2 separate regions of the Homo sapiens genome follow, and region 1 is linked to region 2. The links come from fine-mapping of genetic effects on gene expression. A gene starts in region 2. The other region holds a variant in brackets. All regions are shown on one strand. Distances are between the middles of the regions. Region 1 overlaps LINC03125 (long intergenic non-protein coding RNA 3125). Region 2 holds the start of LINC03125 (long intergenic non-protein coding RNA 3125).

Evidence for each region.
Region 1: its variant is fine-mapped to the expression of LINC03125 in esophagus muscle (GTEx, PIP 0.91).

What each region holds. Positions count from the first base shown.
Region 1 is chr20:23,184,997-23,190,185 of GRCh38, forward strand. It overlaps LINC03125 (long intergenic non-protein coding RNA 3125), which reads left to right. Exons shown (of 6, transcript NR_199692.1): 5 at 2,319-2,644; 6 at 4,787-5,189. Among named protein-coding and RNA genes, the nearest start is that of LINC03125, 39 kb to the left of the region's middle. The variant G/A (reference allele first, on the strand shown) is at 2,867.
Region 2 is chr20:23,145,460-23,150,648 of GRCh38, forward strand. LINC03125 (long intergenic non-protein coding RNA 3125) reads left to right here and starts at 2,644. Exons shown (of 6, transcript NR_199692.1): 1 at 2,644-2,955. RefSeq lists enhancers at 2,093-3,292, 4,787-5,189.

The DNA of each region.
Region 1 (5,189 bases), 40 kb after region 2:
TCTGCTCTAGTGTCTCCCCATCTTTGTGGTTTTATCTACCTTTGGTCTTTGATGTTGGTGACCTACAGATTGGGTTTTGGTGTAGATGTCCTTTTTGTTGATGTTGATGTTATTCTTTTTTGTTCATTAGTTTTCCTTCTAACAGTCAGGTCCCTCAGCTGCAGGTCTGTTGGAGTTTGCTGGAGGTCCACTCCAGACCCTACTTGCCTGGGTATCACCAGCGGAGGCTGCAGAACAGCAAATATTGCAGGTGGTAAATATTGCTGCCTGATCCTTCCTCTGGAAGCTTTGCCCCAGAGGGGCACCCACCTATATGGGGTGTCTGTCAGCCCCTACTGGAAGGTGTCTCCCAGTTAGGCTACATGGGGGTTAGGGACCCTCTTGAGGAGGCAGTCTGTTCATTCTCAGAGCTCAAATGCCATGCTGGGAGAACCACTGCTCTCTTCAGAGCTGTCAGACTGGGACGTTTAAGTCTGCAGAAGTTTCTGCTGCCTTTTGTTCAGCTATGCCCTGCCCACAGAGCTGGAGCCTAGAGGCAGTAGGCCTTCCTGACCTCTGGTGGGCTCTACCCAGTTCAAGCTTCCTGGCCACTTTGTTTACCTGCTCAAGTCTCAGCAATTGTGGATGCCCCTCCCCCAGCCAAGCTGCCACCTCACAGTTCAATCTCAGACTGCTGTGCTAGCAGTGAGCAAGGCTCTGTGGGCATGGGACTTGCCAAGTCAGGCACGGGAGAGAATCTCCTTGTCTGTTGGTTGCTAAGACCTTGGGAAAAGTGCAGTATTTGGGTGGGAGTGTACTGTTTTTCCAGGTACCATCTGTCACAGCTTCCCTTGGCTAGGAAAGGGAAATCACCCAACCCCTTGTGTTTCCCAGGTGAGGCAACACCCGGCCTGCTTCAGCTTGCCCCCCGTGGGCTGCACCCACTGTCCAACCAGTCCCAATGAGATGAACCAGGTACCTCAGTTGGAAATGTGGAAATTACCCATCTTCTCTGTCAATCATGCTGGGAGCGGCAGACTGGAGCTGTTCCTACTCAGCCTTCTTGGAACAGAGCCCCCCTCACAAAGGACTTTCTCTGGCTAACTCTGATGCTTTTCTGAGTTCTTACCTAAATTTCCCCTTCTCCTTCTGTGGCCCTGCCAGTTTTGTTTTGTTTTGTTTTGTTTTGTCCTTATCACTACCCTTGCTGCCTCCTCAAATTATCCAGAGCCACTGTTGTTTTCTAGAACATTGGCAAGCACGTTGATAGAGTGCCCACATTGTACTGAACTCTGAGGGGAATAGTCTCGTCCCCATCACTCAGGTGGGGAAACTGAGGTGAGGTTAGTTTAAAGTGGGTAAGCAGTGGGTTTGGAATTGGAGCTCTGGCTGGCTGGCTCATGTCCGTGCTCTTCCCACCACAGCAGGAGGCCACTGGAGGCTCCAAGGGCTCTGAAATGTTGAGAACTTCCCTGCAGGTACCAGCGAAGAGGGCAAGAACACAGCACTACTTCCTTGGATACTGTTTCCCTCCTCAGAGGGGTTTTCTGAGCTGCCCTGGGTCCTGTGAGGAAGGTAGGAATTACATTTCACTAGGGAACAGCCAGGGTCACCTCCTTGCCTGAGGCCCCACCATCCCATCAGCCTGGATGGGCCTGCTCAGCAGCCACACTCGCCCCTAGGCCGAGAAGGGGTGGGGCTCGGTTCCACAGAGTCTCCCAGGGCCTCAGGCAGGTACTCTAGGCTGATTCCATCTCCAGGTTCGCAAGTAAAAAAAAAGTCAACTGCCCAAAAGACTTCTCTTAGAACTCACAGCAGGTTAGGCTGGCAGGTGGAGTCTATGCTCGGGTGGTCCCATCTGCCAGGCCTGATGTTCCAGGTGAAGAGATTGGTGAGCACCAGGTGACCCCACCCAGGTGCACGTGGCTCTGTCGGGTACAGGCAAGTCTCTGCCCACCAAAGGGACACCACAAGGGCCCAGGCAAAGCAGAGCCTTTCTCACTGGGTGTCTGCTGGTGCTGATGTCACCAAGGAACACACCCCGGGCAGCTTAAACCACAGACGTTTATTCTTGCATAGGGCTGGAGGTCACAAGTCTGAGATCAAGGTGCTGGACAGCCTGGCTCTTCCTGAGGGTGGCTGGCAGGTCCAGTGCAGGCCTCCCACCTTGGCTGGTGGACAGCCATCTGCTCCCTGGCTCTCCATATCACCTTCCCCTTGTGCCTGTCTCTCTCCAGATCTCCCCTTCCTGTAAAGACACCAGTCCTACTGGATCAGGGCCCACCCGTGTGACTTCACTTTTACTTGAGTACCTCTCACAGACCCTAACTCCAAATCAGGTCACTTGCTGAGGTACTGCATGTGAAGACTTTGACATTTGAATTTTGAGGGGGCCACCGTTTAACCTGAACCACCAAGGACAGAGCCAAAGACCCTGGGTGACAGGCCCAGAACAGGACCTGGTGGAGGCTCTTCTTTAGGGGAGAGAGGGAAATGGGAGCCACCACTGGCAGAGCCTGAAGGCAGGGCAGCCAGAAAGAAGCTGTGGGAGTCCCCACCATGGAAGACCCTGCCGAGCATCCTGTGTCTCCTGAAGCAGACCCTGACATGAGGACTGGGGGCACGTGTTTATTAAGGGCGATCCCCGGAAGGAGGAGATAACCAGGTAGGGAAGGAGGGAACCCCAGGGCAGGGCTCTAGAGAGAGAGGATGACCCTCAGGAGCAGGAGGGTGCACCTGAAACCAGACCCAGCAAGAGATGGAAGCCCTGGGAGCAGCCCCACTCCAGGTCCTCTGCAGGAGTGACCCAGCTGCCACCAGGCTGCCCTGCCCAGCTCAGCAGGCCCTACGGGTGCAGGGAAGCAGATGGGCAGTGAGATCTGGGACC[G/A]GTATAGAACCACAGCTGCCACAACTGCCCATGGCTCCCTCCCTTCTTTGACGTCAGAGTGAGCAGGGCGGTTTCTGCTGCCTTCGCATTCCAGCCCCACACACCTCCCTGCAGCCTGGCACTGGAAACTGCTGAGCCATGCAGGGCAGCCTGGTGGCGGCTAGGACACTTCTGCAGAGGACCTGGAGTTGGGCTGCTCCCGGGGCTCCCATCTCTTGCTGGGTCTGTTTTCAGGTGCACCCTCCTCCTCCAGGAGGCAGGGGCAAGACCAGCTTCAGCCCTTCTTGCTCTCCATGGTCTGTATATGGACAGGGTGTGGGCCCGGGGAGACAGTTGTGTGGTGTGTGCATTGTGTGTGTGGGGGGGGTTGTCTGTGTGTCTGTGAATATTTGTGTGATATGTGTGTAGTATGCTCATGTGTCATGACTCTGTGAGGGTGTGATGGAAGAGTGTGTGTAAGAGAGAAGTTTGAGTGTGTGTGGTGTGTGCATCTGGTGTCTGTGGGTGATGTTTGTGTACATAGTGTCTGTGTGTGTGATGTCGGTGTGTTGTGTGGGTTTGTGTGTGTATATAGTGTCTGTGTGTGTGATGTCAGCGTGTTGTGTAAGGATTTATGTGTGTGTGTGGTGTCTGTGTTTGTGATGTTGGTGTGTTGTGTGTGGGTCTATGTTTGTGTGTGATGTTGGTGTGTGTGATATCAGTGTGTTGTGTGTGGGTTTATGTGTGTGTGTGTGATGTCTGTGTCTGATGGTGTGTTTTGTGTGGGATTGTGTGTGTGTGTGTGGTGTCTGTGTGTGTGATGTCAGTGTGTTGTGTGTGGGTTTATGTGTGTGATGTCGGTGTGTGTGATGTCAGTGTGTTGTGTGTGGGTTGATATGTGTATGTGTGATGTTGGTGTGTTGTGTGTGCATTTATGTGTGTGTGGTGTCTGTGTGTGTGATGTCAGTGTGTTGTGTGTGGGTGTATATTTGTGCATCATGTCAGTGTGTGTGATGTCAGTGTGTTGTGTGTGGGTTTATGTGTGTGTCTGATTTTGGTGTGTTGTGTATGGGTTTATGTGTGTGTGGTGACTGTGTGTGATGTTGGTGTGTTGTGTGGGTTTATGTGTGTGGTGTCTGTGTGTATGATGTCAGTGTGTTGTGTAGGTTTATGTGTATGTGATGTTGGTGTGTGTAATGTCAGTGTGTTGTGTGTGGGTTTATATGTGTTTGTGTGATATTGGTGTGTTGTGTGTGGGTTTATGAGTGTGCATGGTGTCTGTGTGATGTTGGTGTGTTGTGTGGGTTTGTGTGTGTGGATGTGGTTTCTGCCTATGGGAGGAGGTTTGCTCACAGATGGAGGAGAAGGAGCTCTATAGGCAAAGATCCCAGGGCCGTGGAGGAGGAGACACAGTCCTGAGAACTCCTTCCTCTGAATCAGAAGGACAGGAAAGGTGGGATTTTAAAGGAACAGAGAACCCTGGTGGGAGAGGTGAATCTGAGCTCCTCGGGCCATCGGGTGTCCTGTGGAGCAGAGGCAGGCCCGTGAGGGTGATTTTCAGAATGCTGCCTGCTTCTGAGAGTGAGATGAAGACCCTCTGGGGTCCCGTTGATGTCACCAATGTCGCCTGTCTTGAGGCATCTCTGGTCCAGACCTGGCTGGGAGAGAGAGCTATGGGTGGAGATGCACTGGGTGGGTGCTGGTGGGAGGGGAGGGCTGGCTTTTCCTCAGCCCCCAGACTTAGAGAAGATCACACGCAAGAGCTTGGAAGTCCTGGGAGGAAGTATGATCCCGAATCCTGGCACACTTGATCATGCGTGACAGGGACTTAAGAAAGCCCCTAATTATAGCCGTGTGGGGTTTGTCTCCCTTCTGAAGCTTGGCGCCCGTGTGCTCAAGGCAAGGGCGTGACCAAGGTAAGAGACCCCTTCTCTCCCTTAGGCAGAAGTCCTAGCAGAGTATGCCCACGCTGGTTAGTGCTGCTGCAAAGATGAGCCGAAGACCATGAGAGACCTCCAGGTGGTCCTTCTGGGGAGAAGAAATGGGTTTTGGCCCCAAATCCTTCTGCTGCATTTTTCCCCTATCCCTGGGAAGCCATGAGACCTCAAACCTGTGTTCCCAAGGAGGCGAGCTGCTGTTCCCAGGTGATGATATGATGTGCTTGGGGAAAGTAAGTGGCTGCCAGACATGGCTGAGAGCTGTTGTCACTGCCGTCAAGTGCATGTCTCCAAGCCATATCACACGGCGTCCCTCGATGTGAGGCCACATGGCAAGTGGGCCGTGGATCTCCCTCTGCCCTTTGCAAGCACGTAAGACAGCAGATTTTGCAGATACCTTGTGGCGC
Region 2 (5,189 bases):
CAAGTAGGGAGGCTTTGCAGCAGGACAATCCAGGGTGACGGCGTGAGGTATGAGGGTCAGAGTTGAGATGGAGTCAGTCTGCAGACTTGGCATGGAAGGCGAGAACTCACAGAGAGAGCACGTGTGCTGTATGTGTCACGCAGGATGGCAACCGCTCCCAGACGGGCACTGATGGAAACAGTGAATCAGAGAAAGGGCTGAAACAGTGCCCTGAAGCCTGGCCAGGCAGGGTCACTGGGAGCACCCTGGTGGGGTGTGCAATTGTATGGTTCATTTGCCCAACACGGCACAATGCACAACAGAGAAAATCAAATCAAACTCCAGACAAGAACACTTTGCTTAAGAAAGCAGATGTGAGAAATGTGCCACTTGTTTGTGAAAGTTTTTCATCAAAACAGCTCTCACAGAGATGGGGGGGTTTGATTTAAATGAGAAATGTGCTTATAAAAAACAGATCTTTGGTGAGTAATGAATAGCTATTATCTTATCTATTTAATTATGTATTTAAACGACATATGAAATTTATTATATTTTCCTAAACAAGTTTGAATTATGTTTTTGATTATCTGAAGTGCAACAAAGTTCATCTGCAATGATTCAGCTGTTTATTCATTCTAATATATGGCCACCTACTACACTGTCTGGCACCTATCGAGAGTTTAACAGATGTTTAATTAATAAGTAAGCATCAGTTGGTGAATAGCAGTGCTATTCCAAGATCTTGAGGAAATATTAGAATCTATAAGATGTGGCTCTTCCTGGACAATCAGGCTGAACTCAGCAATTCTGCCACTTCTCAGAGGCCAAAACCACTCCATGAGAAGGCTCCCTATCAGAGCCAAATCACCTCTGGGCAGAGCCAAGATAAATCCAGTGCAATCTACATGAAGTTGTCTGTTTAGACCACACAGATCTGCACAATCTTCCCTACAGGGCCCTGGTGACATCTGCTGAAATGAATGAAGCAGTCGAATCAAGGGCACCATGCTTCACAGTCACGTTTCTCATCTTTTCGCTGCATGGACTGTTCTGCGGGGACGTGGCGGGTCTCGGGGCTGGGCAGTCTCAGAGGGTCAGGATCTGAGCGCACTATGGATCCGGGGAGAGGGAAGGGTTAAGAATCAGTGAGGAAGGGGCTGGGCAAGGACATTCTACCCACCCCCCACCCCCCGCCAAAAAAAAAAAAAAAAAAACAACTCACAGGAGGCAAATCTTTGGTGTGTATTTGCAAATGCCAAAGAGAAACATAAAAGAATGGTTTTCCTATGGAACACTGAAGAAAAATGTCGATCCTGATCTTTCCTCTGTCTCCTGCTTGCCCCCTGCCCTACGAGGCCAAGCAGCCAAGCAAGTGGTCAACAGGTGGCCTCTCCGAGCAGAACCGTTTCAGATGTTTAAGAGAAATGACATTTTAGGAGTGGAGCAATGAGCTCAACTTTCTGTGACAAACTTCAGGGGTACTTGTTTAAAAGCATGTTATTTGTGCTTCACCCACAAAGGTTCCAATTTGGAAGAGCTGAACTGGGCCCAGGAATGTATATCCTTTGTGTGTCCAGGAGGAGGTGTGGGTGGAGATAAGCAGCTCCTTGACCACACTTCAAGCAACAACTGGGGTGTGATTCTGAGGCATGTCTTCTCCTCCTCCATTGACTTTCTCCTCTCCAAAGGGTTATCACTGGTGTGACCAGCTCCTCCAGAGGTACCTAAGGTGATCTCATAGCAAAGACCCACGCCCTGGACCCATCCTGCTAGTGATGAATCTGAAGGTTCTGAAGGTTCTGTGCATAACCATGTGGAGCCTGAGTGCACAGGGGCCCAGAGCTATCCTGATTTCTAATCTGGAGCTCTTTTGTCTCTACCAAACTGCTTCTTTATTGAAACTTTACATCCTGAGGGGTTCACTGAATAACAGCGACCCCAAGGCACCTAGAAACAAGCAATGTCATGTTTCTGTACTTGGATTAGAAAACAGGAAGGGAAGGCAGGAGAGTGTGTGGTGTATCTTAGAAAAACTTTTTAAACGTGATACAATCTGAGGAAAATTTGCATTGATGCCAGTAGAGGGCTAGATAGCTTTAAAATTGATCATTTAAATGTATTGACGTAGAAACGTATTCACAATATACTTTAAATGGAAAGCTGTGTTAGGGTCAAGTCTTACAATGCGATTCCACGGTTGCACTGCCACACACACACACTTACATATGTGCCCAGAAAAGCATTGGAAGTAAACCACGTCCTCCTGTTAATAGCAATTGTTTCTGGGTGGTGGAGTTTAGGGGAACTGATGCACTTTTTTCTTTGGTTTTGCCCATCTGTACTGTAACTTTCCCCGAACAAATGTGCATCACTTGTGTCATAATTTACTTTTTTTAAATACATGGAAACAACCACAGTCTGTATTTATTCTCTGGTTAAAGTGCTAAGCCTTGTAATCTAGAATATTCATCTGTCCGAGACTGTACCCTGGGACTCATCTCACGATGAGACATTTGGCCTCCTCCCCAACTCAGTTTCAGAATTCATCTGCTGGATTTCTGAGTCCCACTGAGTGATTAATGTCACACGGGTGACAAGGCATGACTCATAGGCACCAAGAAAGCAGCAGCAGTGTGTGCAGGCCGGGAAGTTGCCACAGCCCTCACTCAGGGCTTCATGCACGCCAGGGCAGTCCTGGGTCAATGGTCTCTTTCCCCTCCTCCTGTTGGATAGATGAAGAGGCCTGAGCAGGAAGGTGGTGGTTCCGTGGGGAATCTTCAGTGACTGGAGTATGTTGTAAGGATGGTGAATCGTCACTTGGCCAGCCAGGGTTTGGCAGTCAAGACAGAGAGCAGTGTCTGGGCCCACAGCATGAGAGACTGCTGGACTTCAGTCTTCGGAGCAGGCAAGAACGGGGAGCTTCTGTGGATTTCTATTCCTGTCGCCTGTCACTGTGAACAGTGCCCAGTACTGCTGGTCAGTAAATGTTTGCTAAAATACTGAGCAACCAAGGAAGTGACTTCAGTTGAACTCTGTACCTGTTGTGTTCACTTCCTTTGCAACATGCGTGACTAATGGTTACTCCTTCTCTTGAATGCTTCCAGAAGAGTAGCACTCACCACCTCATGAGGAAAGGCACTGCAACTTTGGTCAATGATATCTGTTAGAAAGATCTTTTCCTATATTTAGAAGAGTGATTCTCATACCTGAGCATGTATGAGAATCAGTGGGTTTGAGGTGGGCCCAAGAATTTCCCTTTCTAACAAGTTCCCAGAAGATGCTGATGTGGCAGCTTCTAGCACAGTGCTTGGAAATCCATGAGTTTTCAAGAGGACAATCTAAAGTGTTCCTTTGTTTTCCTTTACTTCCCCTCATTCTCAAATCCTATGGGGATGACACAGAGAACCACAAACAAAACAACACACACACACACACACACACACACACATACACACACAGAGCACCCTTGTCCCTAGCTTTATCCTCTGGGATACACAGGACAAGCTCCTCCCTGTTCTATGTGCAACTTTTAAAATATGTGCAACTTTTAAAATACGTGGATGTGGCTTTCACATCTTCTTAGTCCCTCTTTAGCAGATTTTTTACAAAACAAATAAGCCAGGAAACCATGGTCTGAAAGGATTCCTGCTCTGGTGAGATCCAAGACCCACAGCGAGGGCGAAGACAGAGGTCTTGCTGCAGCCCCGGCTTCCTCCACATGGAGGTCCCAGGAAGACGGCATAAGCCATTGCCTCGATAATAACCTGCTTGCTAACTTCCAGCCAGTGCTTCCACATTTTCATGACTTCCAAAGGTTCAGATGAGGATGGTAGTTGTGAGTTTGGGATGAAGTCTTCTGAGCGACTCCTATGGCCCAGCCACAGGGACCTGGGGCTGGAGAGAGAGGACCATCCCAGGCTGCAGCAGCCAACACCTGTGTGGAGGTGCAGGCCCGTGGCCCCCAGCTGTGGTGGACACAGCTGTGCTTCCTGATAGCACCCTTCCCTGCACCTACACCGTGACATCCTCCTCCTCAGCCTGAGTGCAGGCACCACCTGAAGGGTATTTGGGGGAGGGCACCAGTGTCCCCAAGGTAGGAGCTAGTGCATATGGCCTCGTCCTTCAGAGGGACAATTCTGAGAGGCAATCTGCGTGCTTTCAAAGGCCCAGAAACACACCCTGTGTTGCCTCCTCCCTGTCTGACTCTTCCTCTTCCTCCTGCTCCCTGGGACCAGCTCCCAAACAAACTCAATTTCTTCTCTCAGTCGAAGTTTGCTAAGTGAGTGAAGAGTCAAATAAATGATGTTGCTTAACTCTCCCTCTGATGTGTGAATGTCCTCTAGGAACAAGCCTTTTGTAGGAGAACTGTAGGCCAGGGCTGAGTGCACCTGGGATGCAGGATCTCCAGGGGGGACCTATCACTTGTGCGAATTTAAACCTGCTCAGAGCTTAGGGCCCGGCTCTGCTCAAGATGGGCAGAAATAAAGAAGACTAAACATTTACATCTCAAGAGTTTATTTACCCTGGCCTGACTCTTCAAAAAATGCCATTGCTGCTACCCTGAGGATTAACCATGGCCATTTTTAGACCAGGTGCCATCCTGCCTTTAGCCTCGGGTCACCCCTCTGACTCACTGCCAGGAAACGGAGCCTAGACCCTGATGTGTGGTGAGAATTGGCCTGGTTTTCACCTGAGATCCACACTTGAGAAAGCTGATTGAACTCACAGCGTGCCATCCTGCCTAAGATCCTCTTCAGAGATTCTATTTCCCAGAGGGAGGGGATCACTTTCCGCAGTGGGGTTTCTATCTGGGACATTTCTCTTCATCTGTAGGAACCCTATTTAAAGGCTAGAAAATCTGAGGGAGAAGTGGAAAGAAGAAAGCTGTGTAGCTGTGACGATGGCCTGGGACATGGATTCCCAAAGCCTGACCCTCCGCTGTGCCCCCTGCTCCCCAGCAGGCATGGTTAGCCTGTCATGGAACCCTGCACCTGAGCCTGGGCGAGCTCCAGATTCCTCAGCACACAGAGCTCCAAGCTCCTCCTGCCAGGCCGCCAGGGCTGGCTCCCGAGAGAATGCACAAGCCTTTTGTGGTGTCTGAGAAAACACAGCTGAATCTACTAGGCAAGGGGTTGTATAGGGCACCTCGGGAAGAAGTCGCACAGGTGCCCCCAGAGATCTCAGGGGCAGGGAGGGGCTCACCCATAAGG